Linked DNA regions of Homo sapiens. The protein of the gene in region 1 purifies or fractionates together with the protein of each later gene. This does not show direct contact. Each region holds a gene or a part of one and is shown on either strand. Other genes may lie near its edges.

Evidence for each region. The genes of interacting proteins can lie anywhere in the genome.
Region 2: the proteins of ZNF436 (region 1) and ECT2L purify together in Homo sapiens (affinity purification with mass spectrometry; one large-scale study listed by BioGRID and IntAct). This does not show direct contact.

What each region holds. Positions count from the first base shown.
Region 1 is NC_000001.11:23,359,837-23,363,491, forward strand, and holds part of ZNF436 (zinc finger protein 436), read right to left. Parts: intron 3,386-3,655; coding exon 2,133-3,385; 3' UTR 1-2,132. UniProt on the Homo sapiens protein: May be a transcriptional repressor.
Region 2 is NC_000006.12:138,841,065-138,844,719, forward strand, and holds part of ECT2L (epithelial cell-transforming sequence 2 oncogene-like), read left to right. Parts: intron 1-1,914; coding exon 1,915-2,167; intron 2,168-3,347; coding exon 3,348-3,516; intron 3,517-3,655.

The DNA.
Region 1 (3,655 bases):
CCAAAAGCAGCAGCAGGAACTGGTTGGGGTGGGGCAAGAACAGTAGGGAAGGAAAAGGGGGTGAAATACAGTTAGGTCATGGAAATGCGGTCATCTATGGCCACTCCCAAGCTGATACCCATAGTGGCTCACAGAAGCAACAGGAGAACTTTGACATTTATTAAAACCATCAGCAACATATATGAGAAAAGACATATTTGAGTTTAGTTACCAAGAACATGTGTCACCCGACAATTAAAATATGGATACCCACAGTCTGCTAGATTTTGTAAATAACAAAAAAACATGCTCCTTGCCTGAGTTTGTCCTTAAAAAGGAGTGGCAACATGAAGGAACCCCCCTGGAAGATGGGTTACTTTAAAGGTTGTGTTATTAACAAGTGATGTGGTCCCACACAGCTGTGGGTCACAATAACTCATTATAGTACCCACCCAGAGAGACCACTGGCTCCTTTAACACCAAGTCCTAAAAAGCTATGGCAAAACATTTTTAAAATGTTACAACATTCACAATAAAGAACAGTAGCAATAAAGCACAGTAGAAATAAACTGGGGGTACTCTCAAAAGAAAAGATATTCCTCACTCCAGTCCCATTTTCTGGGCACCAATTCCCTTCCACCCCAACATGCTTGGATAGCATCAACACTTGAGATATTTCTTAATTCCTACCTGGACTGAGATTAGGAAAACTGACACTACTGGGCTTAAATTGGGCGAACTGTTATTTTAACCTCTTATATCTGTAGGGTGGGAGGATGGAAATACATTCCTACCGAGGTTCGTTAATTCCTTCTGACTAAGCCAAAGAGTTCTTCATTACCATAGAAGATAATTCATTCTGAGAATAGGACAATCGACCTATTTGTCTGGTCATTATCTTCCACAATTGACAAACACATACAAACAAGTGCTTAGCTCTGTACAAAGACAGACCTTACAGGAGAGTGCACACTAAAGCACTAGTGTTTAAATTATTTTCCATAATGAAAAAAGGACATTTCTCACATTGGAGTTATGTCTGTACTTCTGTCACATGACTCACATCACCCAAGAACATGCTAAGTCTCTGTAAATTCAGTTTCTATTAGAAAAACCACAGGAATACACATTACTGTACATACACATGCCCTGATGCAAGCTAAGATAAACACTGGGATGTGGCCCTTATCAAATCTTAGAGTTAGCAGGATAGGAAGAGTTGATCTTAAAGATTAGAAGGGAAAGAACACAGAAACGACCTACATTCCTTGGGAAGGGACTCTGTGGTTCCTTCCCTGAAGGACTCAATTCCACTTGCTCCTTACACTTAACTGTCACTGATGGTCCTATCTTTTCTTGAAGATATTTTCTATACAATATTCCCTATAGTGATCCCCAAAGAAAATTCATAAATCTGATTAATGGCAGTAATAACTGTGGGCATCTTCTGCTAAAGTCACCATCATTGATGGGTCCTTGGTCCCCAAACCTGTGTCTCATTTTTCCTTTCCAACCGTATCTTCAGTTAGCCTTCACAAAGATGCAAGCTTTAAAGGAGCTAATTAGAAACAATGAGAAGGAGAAAAGTTACAATCATTGCCTTCATCGTGCAAAATCTTGCCCTCAGGAAGATGGAAAAGATACAAATGCATGAGCAACTCAAGGAAAAAGCCCTTTGGAAGGGAAGATGTGTGTGCCCAACTACTATGGTGTGTGAATAGGTGTGGCAATTTAGGCAGAGTCTCTAGTTGCCTTTTTCCAAAGCAGCCATTACCACCCTATTACAGTCCCACGTTTCACTTAGCATAGTTCCTTGGGCCAAGGATGGGAGAAAATAACATTGAAAGATTTACTCCATTTCCAGGCCTAAGCATTCACCAGCATTTGTCCCCTGGTCTTCAGATTTCCAGTTACTTGTGGGGCTGCTTTTAATGAAGTAACCCATTGAGTGAATAAAAATCACCATTTTGGAGGAGATAACATTCCCAAAGCTGAGGGTCAGAATTTCAAATGGCTTGTCATCTCTGATGGTTTAAATCGTGGCCCACAACTAGGAGAGTATGATAAAAGCAGCTCAGTCTTGAGGGCGTTCATTGATATCAAATAAAATTGTATCTTCAAATGAATCATTTCTCAGCCATCATAATTACAGCTTAGTCCGTATGAACTCTCTTATGTTTAATAAGAGCTGAGCTCCTGCTGAAACTCTTCTCACATTCGGTACATTCATAAGGTTTCTCTCCCGTGTGAACTCTTTGATGTGTGATGAGGTTGGAGCTCTGGGTGAAACCTTTCCCACACTGCACACACTCGTAGGGCTTCTCCCCTGTGTGGGTTCTCTGATGTTTAATTAGATCTGACCTTTCACCAAAGCTTCGCCAACACTCATTACACTCATAAGGCTTCTCTCCAGTGTGAATTTTCTGGTGTGTGATGAGATGAGAGCTCCGGCTGAAGCTTTTCCCACAAGCATTGCATTCATATGGCTTCTCTCCAGTGTGAGTTCTCTGGTGCTGAACCAAGTGTGAGATGCGGCTGAAATTTTCCCCACATTCGTTACAGTGGTATGGCTTCTCTCCCGTGTGGGCTCTGCGATGACGCACAAGGTCGGAGTTCTGACTGAAATTCTTCCCACACTCATCACACTTGTAGGGCCTCTCCCCTGTGTGGACTCGATAGTGTTTGATGAGATCAGATCTCTCACTGAAGCCTCGGCCACATTCGTTACATTCATAAGGTTTCTCACCCGTGTGGGTCCTCTGGTGCTGAGCTAGGTGAGAGCTCCGGCTGAAGCTTTTCCCACACTCCTCACACTCATAGGGTTTCTCACCACTGTGGGTCCTTTGGTGTTGGATTAGGTGAGAGAGACGGCAGAAACTTTTTCCACACTCATTACATTTGTGAGGCTTCTCTCCAGTGTGGATTGTCTGATGCTGAATCAGGTGAGAACTTCTTCCAAAACTTTTCCCACACTCGTTACAGTCATAAGGCCTCTCCCCAGTATGTGTTCTTTGATGCTGAATAAGGTGTGAGCTGCGACTGAAGCCTTTTCCACATTCATAACATTTATAGGGTCTGTCTCCAGTGTGGGTCTTCTGATGTCGATTAAGGTCTGAGATCTGACTGAAGGCCTTTCCACAATGAGAACATATATGATAGCGGATGCCTGTGTGGACTTCTTTGTGGACAAGTAGATCAGTGACTGGTTGGAGAGGATAGCTTACCCACTCTTCTGCTGTTAAATCTCCCCATTGTCTTTCTGACCTATCTCCGCTTTCAAAGCCCTCTTCACTTTCAGGATTTTCCTCAGCATTCTCAGCAGGTCTTTCAGATGTAGTCCCAAATTGTACATCTTCACTAATCTCTTGCTTGGGATTTACCTCGTTCTCACTCCTGATCTCAAAATCTGTAATAAAAAGTAAACAATAAGACTAGTAAGTACAAAAATTACCTATTGTGTGCCAGGCACTATACTAAATTTTTTTTTTTTTTAGACAGAGTCTCACTGTGTTGCCTTGGCTGGAGTGCAGTGGTGTGATCTTGGCTCACTGCAACCTCTGCCTCCTGGGTTCAAGCAATTCTCCTGTCTCAGCCTCCTGAGTAGCTGGGACTACAGGTGCACGCCACCATGCCCGGCTAATTTTTTTATTTTTAGTAGACACAGGGTTTCACTATA
Region 2 (3,655 bases), on another chromosome or scaffold:
AAATTTCAGTTACTGTATATTTTCAGTTCTAGAATATTGATTTAATTCTTTTGCCAAAATTTTCTACCTAGTCATTTATTTTAGATATATTAATTATAGAGTATTTATTTCCGCAAAGTTCATGTCTGATGATTACAATATTTGGATCACCTGAGGATCTCTCTATAGTTATTAAAAACCAAAAAGAAAAAAGAATTCTTGTCTATTGTGTGTTCTAGTTAATTTTCATTGAGTACCAGATACTGAGTATACAAAATTAATGTGATCCTTTGAGTCTCTGGGTGATGTTTTCTTCCTCCAGAGAGAATTTACTTTTGCTTCTGGCACGTCTAGTGCTAGGAACAAATCCTACAAATCCAGTCAAGGAATGAGATGTTTCAAAGCTGGCTTCAGTCTTTGTGAGAGTTTGTCTAATTAAGTATTATCCTTCCTGAAAAGAATCTTAACTGAAAGCTGGTGTGATTACCAAGCCTCTCCCGTCTTAGTGGGCCCTAAATTTCCATTTGTGTCCTTTCTTCCCTGTGAGAATGCCTAAGATTCTTTTTTAGCATCTAAGTCTTTTAGTCATAACTTTCTGTTCTGCTTCTCAGCCTAACAAGCTTTGCTTTGGAACTGACAAATGCCTTGAAGTAAAAAGTGATGCCAAATATCAGGCTTACCTCTCTGGGTTTCCCTTCTTTCTGGGGTCTTGGTTGAACAAGTCCTTATTGCATTGATAGCTCTATAATATAGCCTTCAAATAATTGTTTGTATAATATTTGGTCTAGGTATTTCATCAGTTCAAACCACATGAAATTTTCTCTTGTCGTATGTCAAAATGGCTGAATATTGGCAATATCGTACGCTTCAGTCAAAATTATTCTCAATGAGAGGGTTAATCTGAAAGAAACTATTCCACTATTGCTAGAAGCTGAATTCTCAGAATCTAGGGTTAACGTAACCAAATGCTATTGGAACATTGGATAAGTGTCACAAAGATGTCTAATACATACATTCACATATAACATATATATTCATCAAATAATATTTTTCCTGTGGAACAAGATACGCTTCTTATTTCCAAGTCAAGTTCAGATAGTAAGTCAGTAATAGCATTTAAAAACGTTATATCTGGCCAGGTGCAGTGGCTTACACCTGTAATCCCAGCACTTTGGGAGGCTGAAGCGGGAGGATCACCTGAAGTCAGGAGTTCCAGACCGGCCTGGCCAACAGGGCAAAACCCCGCCTCTAGTAAAAATACACAAAAACTAGGTGGGCATGGTGGCATGCGCCTGTAATCCCAGCTACTCAGGAGGCTGAGGCAAGAGAATTGCTTGAACCCAGAAGGCAGAGGTTGTAGTGAGCTGAGATCGCGCCACTGCACTCCAGCCTGGGCGACAGAGCAGGACTCCATCTCAAAAAAAAAACATAGAAATAAAAATAAAAGTCCGGGTGCGGTGGTTCACACCTGTAATCCCAGCACTTTGGGAGGCCAAGGTGGGCGGATCACGAGGTCAGGAGATGGAGACCATCCTGGCTAACACGGTGAAACCTCGTCTCTACTAAAAAAACAAAAAAATTAGCCAGGCGTGGTGGCGGGTGCCTGTAGTCCCAGCTACTCTGGAGGCTGAGGCAGGAGAATGGCATGAACCCGGGAGGCGGAGCTTGCAATGAGCCGAGCTCGTGCCACTGCACTCCAGCCTGGGCGACAGAGTGAGACTCTGTCTCAAAATAAGTAAAATAAAATATAAAAAAAATTAAAACTTTCAATTTTATATAAACATTGTAGAAACAAATGGATTTGCATACAAATTCTCAGAGATTTTTGTACCAGAAATCTCAGTGTAATGAAAAAGTATCTGTGTACCTGAAAATATTATTGCTAGAAAACTGTCTGAAAACAATTTGTGACTCATCTTCCTCTTGTTTCTGAAGGATTGCTTATGGATGCCCAAATGCGTTAAGTTCGGATGGTTTCTGCCCTATACTCCAACAGATAATGAGTATGGTGCTTGGAAGCGCCATTACATTGCTTGTGTGTCCCACTTAGACTGGCTGACACCTAGGGAGGCTGCTGCTACTTATGGGACGCTGAATGAACCCAAAACAGAAGATGAGGAACTACTGGAGAGACAAAGAGAAAAGTGCCTGAGGAAAAGAATTTGGGAGAAAATTGCACTACGTAAGAGTAAGTAGCATTTTAAACCTTTATATCTTAGGTAAATATTGTAGACACAAATGGATTCACATACAAATTCCCACAGAGGACAGCCCTGTCTTTCGGAATACTCTGAGTGGCAGTCTTAAGTATTTTCCAGATGAGCTTTTTTCCGTACTGTATATTTCAAGTTAATTGATGAGAAAAACAAAGATTTCAGACAAAATACATAAGGTTAAATATCAGTGCTTCCATTGCTATTCTGGCTCCTCTCAGGCTTATAAGACCAAAAACAAAGAGGATAAAGATGTTTGAACATGGGGAAAAAAGCAAACAAATAGGTTCAAAACAGAGGAATTGGGAGTGATGAAAAGAGGAGGAGAAATGCAAGTGAAAATGGAAGCAGGGAAAATGGCATTTAAAAAGGGAGAAAGAGGACAGCTCTTTCCGCTCTTTTTAAAGCCTCTTTCAGTTAAGCCCCCTATTTATTTATTTATTTATTTTATTTTTGAGACAGGGTCTCACTGTCACCCAGGCTGTGCAGTAGTATGATCTCTGGCTCACTGCAGCCTCGATTTCTGAGGCTCAAGTGATCCTCCCACCTCAGCCTCCTGAGTAGCTGGGGCCACAGGTGCACACCACCATGCCTTGCTAATTTTTTGTATTTTTGTAGAGATGGGGTTTCTCCATGTTGGCCAGGCTGGTCCCGAATTCCTGGGCTCAAGTGACCCGCCCACCCTGGCCTCCCAAGGTGCTGGGATTACAGGCAGAGCCACGGCGCCCAGCCTCAGCTAGGCCTTATGCTTTATGCAGTGTGTAAAAGAAAACAGCAAAACTGATTAGAGTTCTCCCATGTTTTCTTCCCACTAACCCTCTGGTGAGATCGTGACAAATAAGAAATTGCTTGAAGGCAAGAAGAAGGGCACAAATGAATGTGACACCTATCAATTGATTAACTGGTCCCCACTAGAAAAGGGTTGCTTGTTTGCTTGTTCTCTGAGCTTTGTTTCTTGACCTGAAATGACCGGTAGCTCACAGCCACAGTGCCAAGAGGATGAGAAATCCAAACCGAGTGCATGAAAATGGCTGTAATTATTGTCATTTGGAACCTTGCCCTGGTACAGCTTTATTTTTGATGCCTTTATCTGTGTGGACTTGGCTGGGAGAAGTATGAAGTAATCAGCCCCGCCTGCTGTTCTTTGTTTTTCAGAGGAGTTATTCAAAGTTCGACCCCCTTGGGTGAGTGGAACTTGCTGCTCTAGCGTGCTAAAGCCCAGATGCCAACCACGCCTCTCCCAGACTGTAAGGGAGCGAGTGGGATTACATGAAGCTTTGGAGAAACAGCTTGTTTTGACATCGTTAGAAACCTTGCCCAAGCGGTAAGCAAAATTCCATCTACTGAAGGCTCAACACCATCCCAATACCAATAATTCACTCTAGAATAAATTTAGCTATCACGCAGAAATCTTGTGTAATTCTGTGGCTCATATCCTATGAAATATCAGTAAAGATAATTAA